Homo sapiens: one gene and its partners. The protein of the gene in region 2 binds, or shares a complex with, the protein of the main gene of each other region. Each region holds a gene or a part of one and is shown on either strand. Other genes may lie near its edges.

Evidence for each region.
Region 1: SNRPD1 (region 2) and SART1 share a complex: the UniProt entries of both Homo sapiens proteins name them as parts of the U4/U6-U5 tri-snRNP complex.
Region 3: SNRPD1 (region 2) and PPIL2 share a complex: the UniProt entries of both Homo sapiens proteins name them as parts of the minor spliceosome.
Region 4: SNRPD1 (region 2) and DHX16 share a complex: the UniProt entries of both Homo sapiens proteins name them as parts of the minor spliceosome.

The regions. Positions count from the first base shown.
Region 1 is NC_000011.10:65,975,233-65,979,696, reverse strand, and holds part of SART1 (U4/U6.U5 tri-snRNP-associated protein 1), read right to left. Parts: intron 3,319-4,464; coding exon of another isoform or gene 3,303-3,318; coding exon 3,129-3,302; intron 3,042-3,128; coding exon 2,931-3,041; intron 2,684-2,930; coding exon 2,596-2,683; intron 2,135-2,595; coding exon 2,044-2,134; intron 1,934-2,043; coding exon 1,798-1,933; intron 1,098-1,797; coding exon 1,008-1,097; intron 905-1,007; coding exon 783-904; intron 686-782; coding exon 667-685; 3' UTR 1-666. UniProt on the Homo sapiens protein: Plays a role in mRNA splicing as a component of the U4/U6-U5 tri-snRNP, one of the building blocks of the spliceosome. May also bind to DNA.
Region 2 is NC_000018.10:21,614,369-21,619,781, forward strand, and holds part of SNRPD1 (small nuclear ribonucleoprotein Sm D1), read left to right. Parts: intron 1-5,413. UniProt on the Homo sapiens protein: Plays a role in pre-mRNA splicing as a core component of the spliceosomal U1, U2, U4 and U5 small nuclear ribonucleoproteins (snRNPs), the building blocks of the spliceosome.
Region 3 is NC_000022.11:21,686,511-21,690,974, reverse strand, and holds part of PPIL2 (RING-type E3 ubiquitin-protein ligase PPIL2), read right to left. Parts: coding exon 4,417-4,464; intron 4,084-4,416; coding exon 3,977-4,083; intron 3,333-3,976; coding exon 3,243-3,332; intron 2,903-3,242; coding exon 2,869-2,902; intron 2,244-2,868; coding exon 2,126-2,243; intron 1-2,125. UniProt on the Homo sapiens protein: Has a ubiquitin-protein ligase activity acting as an E3 ubiquitin protein ligase or as an ubiquitin-ubiquitin ligase promoting elongation of ubiquitin chains on substrates.
Region 4 is NC_000006.12:30,662,044-30,666,507, forward strand, and holds part of DHX16 (pre-mRNA-splicing factor ATP-dependent RNA helicase DHX16), read right to left. Parts: exon of another isoform or gene 3,852-4,464; intron 3,691-3,851; coding exon 3,436-3,690; intron 3,232-3,435; coding exon 3,028-3,231; intron 2,950-3,027; coding exon 2,758-2,949; intron 979-2,757; coding exon 868-978; intron 700-867; coding exon 584-699; intron 389-583; exon of another isoform or gene 1-388. UniProt on the Homo sapiens protein: Required for pre-mRNA splicing as a component of the spliceosome. Contributes to pre-mRNA splicing after spliceosome formation and prior to the first transesterification reaction.

The DNA of each region.
Region 1 (4,464 bases), on a different chromosome or scaffold from region 2:
TGGCCGTTTGTCTTTCTATGGATTTGAGGCTCACATGTCCCCCAGCAGCTCAGTCACACTCTATCACAGAGTTCAGGCCAAGGAATCTCATCTTTCTGGGTCACTGTACACGGGACAAGTCTCCCAGGAGGCACTGAGCTCAGCCCTCCCCATACCGCGTGCACCAAATACTCCCAGCCCAACCCTGGGAGTTTCACTCCTCTAGACACAGACCAGGGTGGCACAGGACAGCCAGGACAGAAGGTGGCACCTGTGCCCTACCCAAAGCCCAATCCCCAGCCCACCAGGCTGGGCAGTCCTGGGCTGCCCTGACCGGGAGACATTACAGGACAGTGACCTGTGCAGCCCCCGAGGCCAGGAGAGAGCAGGGTGATGAGTTTCTAAAACCGCCTTCCACTTTCTATCAGAGAGCCGGCCCTGCAGAGGTGTGACCGACAGCCAGGGGAGAAGGAAGGAGCCTTAGAGGACCCGGGCTCGCTCTCTCTTCCATCGTTTAGTTGTTTGTGTCATTTGATGGCCAGGTCTCACCTAGCAGGAGCCAGACTCTGTGCCACACCCAACCAAAGATCCAACCCTGGAATCTGTACCACGACCAGGGAGGAAAAAATAAGGAGGGAGCTTTATTTAATATGAAGGTTGAGGCAGGGCCGGGGCGGGAGGGCGCTGTCACTTGGTGATGGTGTTCCTGCAGAGAAGAACAGGGGCGTGAGGCTGCAGAGGCGGGCACAGGCCACGCCACCCCTCCCCACCACACCCTACCCCACCAGCCTCGAGCCACTCACGCGTTCATGCTCTTGCCGCTGCCGCTGAGCACGATGTAGGGGGTCTTCTGAGCCTTCTGCTTCTCCTGGAGCAGGGCCACGGTGCCCAGGGGCGTGTCGCTGGAGCTCATCTTCTTCAGGAGCTGAGGGGTCGGGGCCACTCAGAAAGGGCTGCAGCAGGCCCCACACACCAGCCACCCCTGCCCCGGCAGGCACAGGGCCCCCCACATCCCCAAGGGCACCCACCGCCTCCTCGTCCAGCTTCTTCATCCGCCGCTCTGTCTTCATCTTGCCTGAGCCCTTGCCATGGAAGCGGTGCGACAGCTGCCGGAAAGCCTGGGGACGCGGGGCATGAGAGGAGATGCAGGGCCCTGGGTGGGGCCGGAGCCACCTGTGCCCACAAGGTGTATAATAACAGGGCGGGTGTTGATTGACCCCAATGCCAGGCCTGGGGTGCAGTGGGAAGGGGATGGGAAAAGAGCACAGACGCTGGCACCCTGCAGGGCCCCAGCAGAGGCCGGGAGACCAGCTTGGCTAGTGGATGCGCTGCCATGGGGGCAGAGCATGGGGAACCTGGAGACCTGCCACGCAGGGGCTGGGCCTGGACGCTGGGGCTGGGGCTGGGGCTGCAGGGAGACAAACCCCAGAGAGCAAGGGGGCAGCTGAGTGGTAGGGCAGGACGGTCGGGCGGCCTACGAGAGTGCTGGAAGGGCCTGGACGCTGGAATGGCCCTGCGGGCCAGGAAAGCCAGTGAAGGGCTCACGCAGGTGAGGACAGGAGGGCAGAGGTCCCGAGTGCCTGTCTGACCCTCCTGCCAGGCTTGCAAAGAGACTGCTGTGCCCACTAGAGACAAACTGAGGCACAGCCTTCCTCAGCCCTGAGGGCCCCCTCCCCATCCGTGGCATTCACCAGGCCCCCAGCCAGAGGCTGGTGGAGCCAGGACCCTGGGGCATTGCATGGCCCGGGGCATTGCATGGCCCTGGGCTTGGCCTCCCTGTGGCAGGCCGGGCCTCCGCCTGCAAAAGGCCCTGCTCACCTCCTTGGGTGTGAGTTTCCGGCCCGTCTCATCCACGTATTCGATCTTAACGTCGGGTTTGTAGCCGTCCTTCTCCTTGAAGTCCTGTGTGAAGCCTCGGTATTCCTCCCTCCGGCTGTACTTGTCATCGATGGCCCTGGCCCGAGACAGAGGAGGCCTTAGTGTGAGGAGCTGCCGCCTGCTGTGGTCCCGAAGCTCCAAGCTGGCACAGGCCCCTCAGCCCTGCACAGGCCCCACCACACTCACATCTTATCCTCGATGCAGTACACGGCTGAGGGCAGCGACTTGTTGGGGGCCTTCACCCGGGCCACCTTCTGCACTGTGGTCTCCAGCAGCCCTAGGGATGGAGGGGTTGTGAGACTCCCAACCCCTCGAGAGCCACAGCTCCAGGGCCGCCTGAGAAGGCAGAGCAGGCCCTGTGGGGGCACCTCCCTTTCCTTGCCTCTGGAAAGCCATCAGGCCTGTTCTACAGGCAAAGCAAAGATGCAGAAATGAGCCCCTTGCCAAGGGTCACTGGCCAGGGAAATGGCAGAGCTGGGGTCCTAACACCAGGGCTCTCTGTGCCACAGCTGGAACAGTTTCAACTCCCCTCTCCTTCCCCAAGCAGGTGTGGAGCCTCAAAGGCAGAGCAGACGGACAGATGCCACAGTGGAGGGGAAGGAGTGGCTCTGGGCCGGACAGCTGGCTCCAGCATTGGGACTGAGAGAAAGGGGCAGCAGAGGGGACCGGAGGGGGCCCTGCCTGCACCTGCAGCAGCACCCAAGCCCACCCAAGTCATGGCTGCCCTGAGCTCCCTACCTTTGTTCTGACACAGGAGCAGGGCAGCTGCCAGCCCCCTATTCACGATCGGTTCCTCGTCCAGGATGGTGGTGGAGGAAGCAGAGAACTACGGGACACGTGGCGGGGGTGGTTAGCAGGCCATACCGGCTCTTCTCAGCCCCACCCACTGGTCACCACCTGCCAGGCACCAGCCCTCCACAACATTTAATTTCCTCATTTACTCCTCAGATCGCCCTGGGAGGTCTGCAGAGCCCACTCTGGATGAGGAGGCTGAGGCTCTGGACACCGAGCCCGGTGCTCATCTCCAGCTTGAGCACCCCCAAACGCCCACCCCCCAGCGGCGCGGCCCTCACATCCTGCTGCTGCTTCTCCTCGTCCAGGTTCACCGTGCTCCAGCCGATGTTCTCCTCCCCGTCAGATTCGGAGCCACCGTTGGCTGAGCGCTCCTCATCCCGTTCAAAGTCCTGGGGCACAAAAGACCAGGGTCGGCCCAGGCCCCAGCCAGCCCACCCAGCCGAGGGAAGCAGAGGGCGGGGCCGCCCCAGACGCACCATGAGCTCCTCCTGCTCCTCGCGATTGCCAGCCAGCCCGTAGGTGGGGATCTCCCCCAAGGTGCGGCAGAACTCGGACGTGGCGTTGAACACGATGGCCCCCTTCCGCTCGGGATCCTCATCCTCCTCCCAGCCCCGCTGGCGAGACTCCAGCTTCTTCACAATCTCCACCACCTGGGGGAGGGAGCGGCTGTGGGCAAACCCAGCAGTTTCTGGGGTGATGCCATTGAGACCCAGGAACCTAAGGGTCCTCCCTGGCAGCAGCCAGACAGGCCACGCCCACAGCCCATGCAGGCCCAGCTGCTATCTGCCGCCTAACTCCACTCTGCACCTCTTTCACTGGGGTCACTCTTCTGCTCCAAACCCATCAATGGGTTTGGATGCCCTTTGAATGAATACCCAACATCCTACAGGGCCTTCCTGACCAGGCCTGTGCCAATCCCCCTCCAAAGCCCCTCACACACTACCTCAGCCTCAAACTCCTTCCTCCAGGCTCCCTCCTGCCACCTGCCCCTCCCCCGACAAACTCCGGTTTCAGGACTCTAGACAGCACTTCTAGAACCCGCAGGGTGGTGAGGTGGCCCACGCTTTTGACTTCCCACAGCCCAGCTTCTCGCTTCCTGCTTCACCAAGAAAGCAGGTTCCGTGACATGGGAAGAGAACTCACTCATGCTGCCAGCACTGAATCCAGCGACCCCCACACGGGCACCAGCACCCTCTGCTTTCCCTCCTGTCGCAGATGCCCAGCCACACACAATGATTACCATCTCCCCTCTTTAAAAAACTTCTCCCTCAACCCTGCAGCCCAGACAGCAAAGTCCTCACTCCTCAGTGAAGGTTCGAGTCACTATGTCCACTTCTGCACCCCTCTTTCATTTTATATTACATTCATTTTTTTAAAAAAATCTTCTGAGGCGGGTGGACTGCTTGAGTTCCGGAGATCGAGACCAGCCTGGGCAACATACCCAAATCCCATCTCTACAAAAAACATAAAAATTAGACATTGTGGTCACACACGCCCATAGTCCCAGCTACTGGGGAGGCTGAGGTGGGAGTACTGCTTGAGCTTGGGAGATCAAGGCTGCCAAGATCACACCACTGCACTCAAAAGAGTGGGCAAGAGTGAAACCCCGTCTCGAAAAAAAAAAAAAAAAAAAATTCTTCCAGGGGCCGGGTGGTTGCTCACATCTATAATCCTAGCACTTTGGGAGGCCGAGGCTGGAGGATCACTTGAGCCCAGGAGTTCGAGACCAGCCTGGACAATAAGGTGAAGCACAGTCTCTACAAAAAACACAAAGATCAACCAGGCATGGTGGTGTATGCCTGTAGTCTCAGC
Region 2 (5,413 bases):
GTTCCCTTTAAAGATACTGCATGTTATGACAATTTTCCAGTAATTTTTAATACCTGTACTGAATCCTGTTTTGTGTCTTAGGTAAAATATAGAAACAAATTTTTTTTCTTACCAGAGAATGTATTTTTCCTCCAGAAAATGATTGTTTGACTAACTGGTTTGCATTTTCAGTAGATTTATTTCTGTATCTCAGTTGGCAGCATTGTCATCCTTATTCTCACTGTCACCCTAACCAAAAACCTGGGAGGTGAGCTTGACTTTTTCTCTCCTGATGTCCTTGACATTTGATACATTGCCAATTTTGCCAGTTTTACCTACTTCATAAAAGTGACCCACATTATCCTGTTTGGTTTTTGGGTTCAAATAGTGTGTTTTATACTGAGGGACACTGTGTTACTATTTGATATCCAAGTTTCACTAAGTGGAAAGAATTCAGACAGTGAAAGATTCATCTGAAAATAATTTGAATCCATTTGGTTCCTGGGCTCAGTTAGGGAGGGATAATTGTGTATTTGTCCTGCCCATAGTAGCCTTTCATTCCAGTCACCACCATTAAGTTCAGGCCCTTTTTATCCCACTCATGGATTTTTGTTTTCCTTCTTTAAGGTAAATATCTTATACAATGAAATGCAGTGTATATTTCCTGCTATTGAAAAATGTAAACACTTTTGTAACCTAAACCCATATCAACAGAAGTAACATTACCAAAACCTCAGACAGTTTCCTCAAGCCTTTCCCAGGCAACCTCTGGCTCCATACCCCTAGATGCAACCAGTTTCTTCCACCAGAAATGAATTTTGCCTGCGCTAGAATTTCATATATTTGGAATCACAAAGTATTTTTGCGTAAAACTTCTTTTAGTTACATGTTTTTGAGATTCATCCACATTGTGAAGTGTATCAGTAATGTGTTCATTTTTATTACTGGATATTAGTGCATTGTGTGTTTGGAAGTTCTGTATTTTAGGCCGGGCGCAGTGGCTCACGTCTGTAATCCCAGCACTTTGGGAGGCCGAGGCGGGTAGATCACCTGAGGTCAGGAGTTTGAAACCAGCCTGACCAACATGGTGAAACCCCATCTCTACTAAAAATACCAAAAAAGTAGCTGGGCATGGTGGCAGGTGCCTGTAATCCCAGCTACAAGGGAGGCTGAGGCAGGAGAATCCCTTGAACCCAGGAGGTGGAGATTGCAGTGAGCTGAGATCACGCCATTGCACTCCAGCTTGGGCAACAGAGCGAGACTCCGTCTCAAAAAAAAAGAAAAAAGAAAAAAAAAGCTCCGTATTTTAAAAAATTACAAGAAAATAAAATAAAAAGTTATGTATTTTGTTTACAACTACGTTGAATATTCTTCAGGTTTTTGGAGGGAAACAAATTTTCGTGGGTAAATACTCGAGTGGAGTTGATGGACTGTAACATAGTTATGTGTTTAGCTTTTTAAGAAATTTCCAGACCATTTTCCAAAGTGGTTGTACCATTTTACACTTCCATTAACAATATATTAGAATAACAATTGGTCCACATCCTCACCAGTATGTGGTGTTGTTTGCTCAGTCTTTAATTTTAGCCATTTTAGTGGGTATGTAGTGGTATCTCCTTAGGGTTTAGTCGGTTTTTTGCTTATTTGTTTGTTTTTGAGGCGGAGTCTCACTCTGTCACCCAGGCTGGAGTGCAGTGGCATGATCTTGGTTCACTGCAAGCTCCGCCTCCTGGGTTCACGCCATTCTCCTGCCTCAGCCTCCCGAGTAGCTGGGACTACAGGCGCCTGCCACCACGCCCGGCTAATTTTTTGTATTTTTAGTAGAGACGGGATTTCACCGTGTTAGCCAGGATGTTCTCAATCTCCTGACCTCGTGATCCGCCCGCCTTGGCCTCCCAAAGTGCTGGGATTACTGGCGTGAGCCACTGCGCCCAGCCCAGAGTTGTAGAAATTAGATCTGTGTCCTGGATACCAGTTCTTTGTCAGATGTGTTTTCTCTCAGTGTGTGGTTTACATGTTCATTTCCTTAATAGTGTCTCTCTTCTTGTAGCTCAGGCTGGAGTACAATTGTGCGATCTCAGCTCACTGCAACCTCTGCCTTCCAGGTTCAAGCGATTCTCCTACCTCAGCCTCCCAAGTAGCTGGGATTACAGGCGCCTGCCACCACGCCTGGCTAATTTTTGTATTTTTAGTAGAGACAGGGTTTCACCATGTTGGTCAGGCTGGTCTCGAACTCCTGACCTTGTGATCCACCCGCCTTGGCCTCCCAAAGTACTGGGATTACAGGCGTGAGCCACCATGCCTGACTGATCGATTTTTATGTATCTGGAACTCTTTAAGTCTTTTTTTTTTTTTTTGAGATGGAGTCTTGCTCTGTTGCCAGACTGGAGTGCAGTGGCGCACTCTCGGCTCACTGCGACCTCCACCTCCCAGGTTCAAGTGATTCCCCTGCCTCAGCCTCCCGAGTAGCTGGGACTACAGGCATGTGCCACTATGCCTGGCTTATTTTTTTTGTATTTTAGTAGAGATGGGATTTCACCACTTTGGCCAGGCTGGTCTCGATCTCCTGACCTTGTGATCTGCCTGCCTTGGCCTCCCAAAGTGCTGGGATTACAGGCGTGAGCCACTGTGCCCAGCCTATATCTGGAACTCTTGGGCTCAAGTGACTATCATCCATCTTGGATTACTTTTGGAAAATGGTGTTAGTGGTCCAGGTTCGTTTTTTTTCTGTATGGATTTCCAGTTATTCCAGCATCATTTGTTGAAAACACTTTCCTTTGCCTGTTACACGTCTTTGGCACCTTTGTAAAAAATCAACCATATAAGGCCAGGCTTGGTGGCTCATGCCTGTAATCCCAGCACTTTTCGGAATCCAAGGCAGGCAGATCACCTGAGGTCAGGAGTTCGAGACCAGCCTGACCAACATGGTGAAACCCCGGCTCTACTAAAACAAAAAGAAATACAAAAATTAGCTGGTTGTGGTGGCGAGTGCCTGTAATCCCAGCTAAATCAACCATGTAAATGTGGGACCAGAAATAGATCTGTTTGCTTGTATTGTTTCATTGATCTATTTGTTGTTCCTTATGTCTCGATTACTGTAGTTTTAACTTGTATATGTACTGCTCTAGTCACATAATTTGTCTTCCTAGAGATTATACTTTGGTCTCTTGTCTTTCTAAAATCTGTTTCTGAACATTGGCCCTAGGTTCTCTTTTAAATGTGAATATGAGCCTGGTACTCCACTTCATTGATGAAAATCCTTCAGTAGCTCTCCTAGAGGAATTCTTTAACAGAGCTTAGGCTTTCCATGAAAGGAACCTGCCTAACTCCTCTCTACTCATAGGACCTAAAATATTGAACTTAACATTTCATCGGCCAGGCGTGGTGGTTCATGCTTGTCATCGTAGCACTTTGTGAGGCCGAGGCAGGCAGATCACTTGGGCCAACATGGTAAAACCCCGTCTCTACTAAAAATACAAAAATTAGCTGGGTGTGGTGGCATGCGCCTGTAGTCTCAGCTACTTGGGAGGCTGAGGCACAAGAATCTCTTGAACCCGGGAGACGGAGGTTGCAATGAGCTCAGATTGAGATTGCGCTATTGCACTCCAGCCTGGGCAACAGAACAAGACTCCATCTTTGTATCTATAATTACTCTGTGTCTTATGCTGTATTTTTTCTTTTGTTTCTTCTTGCTGCATATTTCCAACTTTTCAGGCTTCTTACTAGGAGTCCCCTAATACCTGACTCCCCTCTCCACATGCTACAATATATTCTTAGTAAAAAACCTGTGTGTAGCTGGGTGCAGTGGCTCACGCTTGTAATCCCAGCACTTTGGGAGGCCAAGGCAGGCTGATTGCTTGAGCTCAGGAGTTTAAGACTAGTCTAGGCAACATGGCAAAACCACATCTCTACAAAAAATTTAAAAATTTAAAAAATATTAGCCGGGCATGGTGGCATAGTCTCAGAAAAAACCTAAACTAAAAACCTCTGTTTAAAAAAAAACACAAAAAAAACCTCTGTATATCTTTATTGCTTTCTACAACTTAGTTATTTTTACGTATCTTTTATGTATCTGAGCCACCGCGCCTGGCCACATAAGGTTTTTTTTTTCCTTTTATTTATCTTCTTTGCTTCCAAAAATGATTTGAAGAACTTTTATAGTAAAAGTTCTTACTAACTGGGATAGTAAATTCGTGTAAAAGATAAAAACAAAAACTTGATAATGGGAGGAAACCATTAGTTCAGAATTCTAGGCTTTTCTAGTTATAATTGATTGTTAAATTTGGAGCTGAATAACTCTCTGGTGAAATAAAGTGTTACCAATTCGTTGAGAAAAACGTTTTCTTGATGTCATATATAAAAAGAGATTCAACTCATGAGTCTTCTTAAAGTTTGAGGCTTGTTATATCCCAGACCAAGTAATTTCTTTTTTGTGATGGCTGTCTATACCACTAAAAAAAAAGAAATTAAAAAAAGGCATTTTAAGGTTGGTTTCCCTTTATTCATTAAAACATTTCAGCCAACATTATTCAGTGCCTATTACAGTCTAGGATTAGATATAGAGCTTACGATCCCTACCCTCAAGAATAGTCTAGTGCGGGAGGATAATAGGTTATCTTATGTGTACCATTTAGTGTGATGATAGGATCTGTTAATTCAAAGTATATATTATAGACTAAAAGTTTTTATATGAACTGTGTATTGTATGATAGTGTGGGGTTCATTTTCTTAGATGTGATTGTGAGATTATGGTTATATAGGAGAATGTCATTAGAAAATGCATGCTGAAGTGTCGTAATGCCTACAACTTACTTTGAGATGGTGTGATCAATTTTTTTTCGTTTGTTTTTTTGACAAAGTCTCACTCTATTGTCCAGGCTGGAGTTTAGTGGTGCAGTCTTGGCTCACTGCAACCTCTGCCTCCCAGGCTCAAGCAATTCTCCTGCCTCAGCCTCCCCAGTAGCTGGGATTACAGTCAAGTGCCACCAAGTCTGGCTAATTTTTTTGTATTTTTAGCAGAGACGGGGTTTCGCCATGTTGGCCAGGCTGGTCTCGAACTTCTGACCTCAGGTGATCCGCCTGCCTCGCCCTCCCAAAGTGCTGGGATTACAGGGATGAGCCACCACACCTGGCGAAGACTGTCTTTAAAAAAAAGGGCCAGGCCTGGTGGCTTACGCCTGTAATCCCAGCACTTTGGGAGGCCAAGGTGGGCAGATCACCTGAGGTCAGAAGTTCGAGACCAGCCCAACGGGTGAAACCCTGTCTCTACTAAAAATACAAAAATCAGCCAGGTGTGGTGGCAGGCGCCTGTAGTCCCAGCTACTTGGGAGGCTGAGGCAGGAGAATTGCTTGAACCCAAGAGGTGGAGGTTGCATTGAGCCAAGATCATGCCACTGCACTCCAGCCTGGGTGACAGAGCGAGACTCCGTCTCAA
Region 3 (4,464 bases), on a different chromosome or scaffold from region 2:
AAAAAAAAAAAAAAAAAGAGAAGGTGGCAACTGATCTGTCAGCAGTTTCACAGGCTGGTTAAGCCAAAGAGAAATAAAAAATAATAAAATGATTCCCTGCCCTGGCCCCTGCCAAACAACAAAAACAAACCACGCACCCAACCTACTTGAAAATAACCAACAGTCCTAGGCAATCCTTGGCTGAGAAGAAATTGAAAGGGAAGCTACCAACAACCAGCAAGCAGTGAAGAGGGAACATGCACCCTCAAAATGACAGACGTGGCTATCAGAAACACACATGGATTAAAGTGAGGAAGGAGGAAAAGCACCATGAAGAAGCAAAGACAGAAACTGAAAACAATTACAAACCCTTCAAAGTGAAGTGAAAACAGACAAACCCTTCAAAGACCACTAAGGGACTGAGGAATGGAAAGTGTGATTAGGCATGAGAAAAAAAGGTCAGCACAGCGAGGCCAAGAGAATACCAGCCTTCATGGAAACAAGTGCCCGTTAACCCTGAAATGAAAGCCCCAAGGAAGTGGCACGAATAGCTGCCAGCTGCCTTTGCCCAGCTGTTAAGCACAGCTGACTCGTTTGATTTTTTTTTTTTTTTCCAGACAGGGTCTCACTGCTGCCCAGGATAGAGTGCAGTGGCGCGATCCTAGCTCACTGCAGCTTTGACTTCCCAGGCTCAGATTATCCCCCCACCTCACCCTCCCAAGCAGCTGGGACTACAGGCGCACGCCACCATGCCCCGCTAATTTTTTTTATTTTTTGTAGAGATCGGGTTTTGCCATGTTGCCCAGGCTGCTCTCGAATTCCTGGGCTCAGGCAATCCACCTACCTCAGCCTCCCAAAGTGCTGGGATTACAGGTGTGAGCCACCACGCCTGGCCATCCCTGTGATTTTAACCATTCCAGGCCACAAAGCCACAGCCAGCCCTGCTCGTAACATGCAGGGGCCACACCTGTCACAGCAAAACCTGCTGGAGCCAGTCCACACAACCGAGACCACGTGTGACAGTGAGCTGGCAGAAGGCCACGGCGAAGCCACGACAGGCCAGGGTTCACCCCAGAATGCCACGGAGACACCCATCCACTCTGGCCTTGTAGTGGCCACATCCACAAATCCCGGGAGGACCAGAAAAAGGACAGAATCATCATAGTAGATGCTAACAAAGAAACCTCTAAAAAGTCAGCCACCCTCCTAAAAACAGCCCAACAACAAATGTTCTGAGAAGGCAAAACAGCGATTTCTGTGGAGCACAGCAAGATGCCCACATCCTCCTCCCCCATCAGGCCCACGGTGACGTGACGGTGACGTGACTGATGTGCACACCAGGGAAGCAGAGAGCAGACCAGCTTTTGGTGATAAGCGTGACTATCTAGAAAACCCAAAAAAATCTTAAAAACTTTTGAATTATAAGATAATTTGTTAAAGTGGCTAGATATAAAATGAACGGTAGTTTTTCTCTACATGAGCAATGATCCCCAAAAGTTGGGAAAAAAAAAGTCCATTTACAAAAGTATCATAAACTATAAAAAATCCTTAAGAGGTTGCTTTATCCCGGAAGTCACAGGACCCATGTGAAGAAAACGATTGAAAGACTGAAACATAACATCAGGCCACTGTCTGGGGATGGAAAGGGCACCTCTGTTCTTCCACAATACAGGCATCCGGCCCCTGTGTGCATGGCCCTGCTGGCCCCCCATCCCCTGCCTCCTGCCACCAGACTGCACACTGCTCCCCACATGCACCAGGGCCAGACCTCCTGTGTCTCTCCAGGCGCCTCTCCCTGTGCAGCCTGTGCCCTGCACAACCCCTCCCACACGCTGACCTCCCCCAGCACTGCCTGGCCACAGGCACCCACACGAATGCCTGGTCCCTGTCAAGAAGCCCTTCTGGACCTCCAGTAATTCCCGACTTCTGGTCTCTCGAGGACACACCCGGTGCGGGCAGCTCTCCCTGCTGACTCACTCTGGGGACCCCCTTTTGAACGCAGGTGCACATGCTTGGCCTAGGTGTGCCGTACACCGTCTGGGTATGATTCAGAACCAGCACACCCTTCAGAGAGGGCCAAGAGGAAGAACCCGCAGAGAGTGCCGGCTCACCTCCCAGGCCACCCCAGCAAGCCCAGCTGACTCACAATTGAGACCTGTTGCTGTTGGGCCCGGAGTTGGCCATGCTGAGGATGCCGCGGCCCGTGTGCGAGAGGTTGGGCCGGAACTCGTCTTTGAAGGGCTTCCCCCAGTATGACTCCCCACCTGGAAGAGAAAGGCCCATGGGAGCAGGAAAGCCTGGGCCCCAGCCGAGGCAGAACTAGAAACCTCAGAGTCCCGAGGGGCATCAGGGCCTTGCTGAGCCCAGCCTGGGGCAGGGGCACTTGATAGGGAGGCTCCCAGCCCCACGCCACCAACTCCTGGGTCCCTTGGAGCCCCCACGCCTCCAAACAGGCAGGCTGCTGCCCACTCACCCCAGCCCCGCCTGGGGCCTGCCCCGGGACAGGGATTAAAGAGTCAAGGCCACCATCATCATCACTCAAGCTATGGGAATACAGAGGTTGGGGGATCTGGACCCAAGCAGCTGCCAGGCTGAGGGGCTTGGAGAGGCTGCAGGAGGGAGGGCTGGCCTCAGTCTGAGGCAGACCCCAGGGGCCCAGGGAAGAGACCACACACTCTTGCCTCCTCTACCATGCAGGCCTCACAGCCACCTGGAAATGAGAAAACTGAGGGCCAGGCCTGAGGGGGCACAGCACTGATGGCTGCCAGTCGTTCCACCCTGGTCTAGCAGATTCCATGTCTGAGCTGTGCACAACCCCTGCCCAGCTACCCCCTCATGCCCCACGGAGCAGCCAAAGTGCCCAGAGAGGGGCCCAGCACCAGTACCTACCCGTGCCTGTGCCTGTGGGGTCGCCCCCTTGGATCTGTGAAAACAAAAGCCAGTGAGCAAGTCACACTCTGAGACCCGAGGCCCACCGCCTGCCTGACTGAAGGACACCCCTCCTGCCAGATGGCTCCACACAGGGGCTGGGCTCTTGGTGATAATGAGGGGCCCTCCCAGCCACCTCCCTTTGTGAACCCAGTTCTGGATGGGCTGGGGCCTCAAGGGTCAGTCTATGGGTTCCCCAACAGAGGATCACCAACTGGACTCATCCTGGCCACCGTGGGATGGGCCAGGGCCCTGGGATGGGGCAGGGACAAGCCCACCCAGCCCCCGATGTCCCACCAAGCTCATCTGTGCAGCCAGTGACTCTCGTCACTCACCACAAAGTTCCGGATGGATCTGTGGAAGATGGTGCCATCGTAATAATGCTTCTTGCAAAGCCTGATGAAGTTTTCGCAGGTTTTTGGTGTCTGCAACATAGCCCCAATACTTGTATGAAGCAGAGAGCTGCCAAAGGCAGCTCACCACAGCCACAGGAGGCTTTTTTTTTTTTTTTTTTTTTGAGGTGGAGTCTTGCTGTTGCCCAGGCTGGAGTGCTGTGGCGCGATCTTGGCTCACTGCAACCTCCGCCTCCTAGGTTCAAGACATTCTCCTGCCTCAGCCTCCCGAGTAGCCAGGACTACAGGCATGCGCCACCATGCCTGGCTAATTTTTGTAGTTTTAGTAGAGACGGGTTTCCCCATGTTGGCCAGGCTGGTCTTTAACATGTAGCAGAGTCAGCTGCCCAGCCACACTGGGCACGGATGGACCCACAACATTAAGCAACAGGACCCGTGCAGCCGCACGGCCCAGAGTACAGCGCATGGGAGAAGTGTGGGCAGAGCAGCAGGTGCGGCTTGGCCCCTTCTCTGAGACACTGGCACCTGTGCGCAGGCCATGCTGCCAACGCGGCCCCCTAGGAAGGACACAGGGCACTGCTGCGGGTCCCGCCTAGTGACAGGCTGAATTTCCTACAACAAGCACATACCAGTGGCAGCCCTATATTTAAGACATGGCTGTCAGATGACCCAGAGATGACCTTGGGGCATGGGGAGTGGCTGGCCTCCACACCCACCAGGTCGCAGTGCAGCTCCAGGTTGAGGTCGCCCTTGTTGGTGTGCAGCCGCACGTAGCCCTTCTTCTTCACAAACTGGTAGCGCAGCACATCCTCGTCGATGGCAGCTACAAGCCAAGGTCCCAGCTCAGCCCCTGCCCTCACCCTGGGGCAGCCCCACCATGCCAGGCAGCACCGACCTCAGACACACAGGCGGGGACTAGGCTCCAGCTCTGGGGAGAGCAGGGGAGCTGGAGGCCGAGGGTCTGCTTAGGCCACGCACAGGCTCACCCCAGCCTCATGGGGCTGGCAGGGGTTCAGCAGCTAAGAGGGGGAGGACTAGGGGCTCAGGTGACAGTGGGAGCCCCTGACAGACCAATAAAGTGGGAGTCGGGGAGCACACCCACCCCCTGCCACTTTTGGGTCACATGGCAGGTGGCTACAGAGGCCAAGGTGGCTACCTGCTTCATGTGTGGTCTCCGGGACCATCGCGGTGGAGGTGAAGGAAG
Region 4 (4,464 bases), on a different chromosome or scaffold from region 2:
ACCAACCCCTGCTTGGCCATTTCCAGCACTAAGAGCTCATTATTCACAGACCAAGCTACCCAAGACTTGTGTGGAGGGCCAAGACCCAGAGTCCAACCACTCTGACAGGCCCTGCAATCTCCACCACTCTGAGGGTTACTCAGCCATTGGTATTGAGTTGGAATCTGTCTCCCTGTAACCTCCCCATGGCTCCTAGCTATGTCGTGTAGGGTCACATAAAACAATCTGATCCTTCTTTCCATGTAACAGCCTTCACATATTTAGAGGGAACCAGGATGCTTCCTGTTTCTCCCTCTGAGCTGAGCATTCCAAGTGTTTTCAAATGGTCTTCACACGGTATTTCAAGTCTCGGCAGCAATGCTCTGCTATCCTGGTTGTTTTCTAAACCCTGGAGATGAATGGGGAAAGAAGAGGCTTTCTCTACAATCTCTTCTGTCCTCCAGCCCCATCTCCGTGGTACCTGGAGGTCAGTTCAAGGACCATTTGAACCACAAAGATTCAAGAACGGGTGGATTAATCAGAAGACAATGGCTGAATTGGCTGGGTGGGAAGAAGGGAGAGAAAGGCCAGAGATTAGAGATACCTGTAACTCGCCAGGTCAGGCTCAGAGAGGAACTCCCGGAGAAGCATCCCATCTGTCATGTAGCGGAGGACAGTTCGCTCTGATGTGCAGTCCTCAAAGCGGATGCTGTAGCCAACCTGGTCAAGGGAACCATTAGCAACCAAGTGTGGGCTGGTGTGCCCTGAAAGGAACTTGGGGAAAGGTGAAGTGGGGCAGCACCAAGACTTCTGCTGTAGGGACCTGAGGGAACTGTAGACTGAGTCACAGACCCCAGACTCTACCCCCCGGTTCCCTAGAAATCTCACCTCATTCCCAAGCTTCACACCCATCTCCCGGGCCACTCGGGCGGCCACACTCATGGCAGCCACTCTCCGGGGTTGGGTGCAGGCAATCTTCATACCCTTGTTTGTATAACCCTGAATGACAAAGAAAAAAGAAGAAGTTTGCCCTTTACTAAATATGCACCCTGGGACCAGGTACATTTCAGAGAAAGAAGTTGTAAAAACCAGGCAGGAGAAAAGGAGGAAAAGACAGATGCTGAAAACCAGAAAAGAAGGGCAAATAGATAGGATGACAGACCTAGGGCCCTCAAAGGGGGTCCTCACCCAGCTCTGGGTAATTAAGTTCATGACTCTGCTAGACTTGAGCTGGAAAAGAACAGATTAGCTGAGACAGAGCCAGCTAAGGTAAAAAAGCAGGAAGGCTGGGCACAGTGGCTCATGCCTGTAATCCTAGTACTTTGGGAGGCTGAGGTGGGAGGATGGCTTGAGCTCAGGAGTTCGAGACCAGCCTGGGCAACATAGTGTGACAAAAAAATTAAAAATTCAAAATTTTGACCAGGCACAGTGGCTCACACCTGCAATTCCAGCACTTTGGGAGGCCGAGGCAGACGGATCTCCTGAGGTTGGGAGTTCGAGACCAGCCTGGCCAAAATGGTGAAACCCCGTCTACTAAAAATACAAAAAATTAGCCGAGCATGGTGGTGCATGCCTGTATTTCCAGCTACTTGGGAGGCTGAGGCAGGAGAGTCGCTTGAACCTGGGAGACAGAGGTTGCAGTAAGCCAAGATCATGCCACCGCACTCCAGCCTGGGCAACAGAGCAAGACTCTGTCTCAAAAAAAAAAAAAAAAAAATTTCAGGCCAGGCACAGTGGCTAACACCTGTAACTCCAGCACTTTGGGAGGCTGAGGTGGGCAGATCACGAGGTCAGGAGATTGAGACCATCCTGGCCAACATGGTGAAACCCCATCTCTACTAAAAATACAAAAATTAGCTGGGTGTGGTGGTACGCACCTGTAGTCCCAGCTACTTAGGAGGCTGAGGCAGGAGAATCACTTGAACCCAGGAGGTGGAGGTTGCAGTGAGTCAAGATCGCGCCACTGCACTCCAGCCTGGTGACAGAGCAAGACTCCACCTCAAAAAAAAACAAAAAATGTTTAATATGGGCATGGTGGTGTGCACCTCCCAGATACTCAGGAGGCTGAGGTGGGATGATCTCTTGAGCCCAGGAGTCCCAGGTTGCAGTGAGTCATGATGGTGCCACATCACTCCAGCTTGGGCATCAGAGCAAGAGCCTGTCTCCAAAATAAGGCAGGGGCTAGGCACAGTGGCTCACACCTGTAATCCCAGCACTTTGGGAGGCTGAGGTGGCTGGATCACTTGAGGTCAGGAGTTCGAGAGCAGCCTGGCCAACATGGTGAAACCCCATCTCTACTAAAAAATTAGCCAGGTGTGGTGGCGCATGCCTGTAATTCCAGCTACTCTGAAGGCTGACGCAGGAGAATTCCTTGAACCCAGGAGTCAGAGGTTGCAGTAAGCCAAGATCGCACCACTGCACTCCAGCCTGGGTGACAGAGCAAGACTCCGTCTCCAAAAAAAAAAAAAAAAAACTAACAAAAAGGCAGGAAAATAGTCCTTTAACTCCTTGTTTTTTGGCCACGTTGGAGCATAGGGAGGTCCACATTTATACACGCCCCACTCCACCTATCCATCTACCCGTCCTTCCAAATGAAATGAATGCAGGAAGTGAGAACAGAAATGTGAAAAGGGTATGGTCTTTACTCTCAAGAATTTCACAATTTAGTGGAAAAGATAGGTAAGTGACTACTAAAAATATAATGTAAAAGGAGCTCTGACAGGAATGAGGACATTGATGCCAGGTGCCCTGGCAAGCTGAAGGGTGAGATGACTGTACCTCCTCAAAGAGATACTGCGGGATCTGGGTGGTCTTCCCTGAGCCTGTCTCGCCTTCAATGATGAGGACTTGGTGATTTGCAATAGCAGCCAGGAGCTCCTCTCGAAATGGGAACACCGGGAGGCTGCGGCGGACGGCCTGGATGGACTCTTTCTGCTGGGCCTGAGTTGAAGTGGGTGGAGCTGACGGCTCCTAAGGAAAGAGAAGGAGGTGTGAGCTAAATAGCTCGCTACGGGTCTTCCTCAGAAAGTCTCCCAGCTCCCCTCTTACCTCATCACCCTGGAGCTGAGTGGCCCGGACAAACTCAATGGTCTCCTCCTCCTCCAGCACCAGTTGATACTTGGGCTCCTGAGAGGCAGCATCTCGGGCCCCAAACTTCAGGGACGCTGCCCCAAGCCGCGCCTCCTCCCAGCGCCGCTGCTCCTCCCCAGGGGCTCCTGATTCCTCCTCCACTAGATCCACAGCTCGGGCTGGCTACAGAGAGAGGGGATATGTGAAGACTCAAAAACAGGATGTCCTCTCTGCCCTCTCCCCTCTTCCCATTACTACCCCCGCCCACTGCCCATTGGGAACGGCAAGGCAAGAAAGGGGATGACCCACGTGTTGCCCAATCCCCTGAAGCCTTCCCCACAACTTGTCTTGGGGACCAAGGCTGAAGCAGACGCCGCTTCACCTCACCTGTCCTCGGGTTTCCTTGGGCATGTGGTAGCGATTGGTGGCCTCCAGCTTCTCCTGCTCCCCAGCTGCCCGGTACTCCCGGGCGAGATCCCGCACTCGCCGCTTATATTTGAGCTCCTGCCGCTCGTGCCGGCTCAGCTCCACGTCCCCAAAAAGGAACTCCTCATCAGCCAGCTCCGCCTCCAGGTCCTCAAGCTTCTCTCGCTCCCGCTTAGCCAGGTACTCTCGGCGAGATTTCTTCCGCAGCTCAGGGACCTGAGTTGGGAAAGGACAGTCGAATCCTCATCTTGCTGGAGGAGCAACCCCTTTCTCTACCAATCCCTACAAGGGAAAAATCCCCTGACAGGCAGGCATGAGAACCTCAGGATGCACCCTCTACCTTCCCTCTGCAATGCACAACCAAAACAATGACATACTCAAATCTGGGCCTCTTTGGATGCTACATGCTGACCCCACATCGTATCTTCCTGCAGCAGAATCCAGCTGGAAAGTCCTCTTAGGCAGCATTATCATCTTTGTTAATATAGATGCACTAGGGAGATGTCTGCGTAGCTTATATTTTACTCTTGCCATTTTATTCAAATTAGTGGAAAGGGGGAAAATAAAAGGCTAATCCAGCATTTAGAAGCACAGGACTCAAACCGAAAACAATTCAGACAAAGATAGAAACCAGTGAGGGGGCCAACAGGAGGCAATCTTCAGCCCCAGTTAGATGTTCTTTGGTCTTAAACGGAATGACTGTAGTTTGAGGAAGGGAGAAAAACTGATTATAAAAAGTTAGGACTACAGCATCAGAGTGTTTCTGTAAGGCAAATGTAATCAGGGATGTTTGGCTTTCTGGTACTAACCTCTCTTCACCATGCTGTGTCTCACTTAGTTTCTACACATTTACCTTTGATACAAACTTTTCAGGACACATTATGGATGACAGCAGAAAACTGGCAATATCTATAAGGCCCTTTCCTGCCAGGAGTCCTCCCACTATGACATCATCCTCTCTGTGATCACAACTTCCTCTACTGCAAGGTC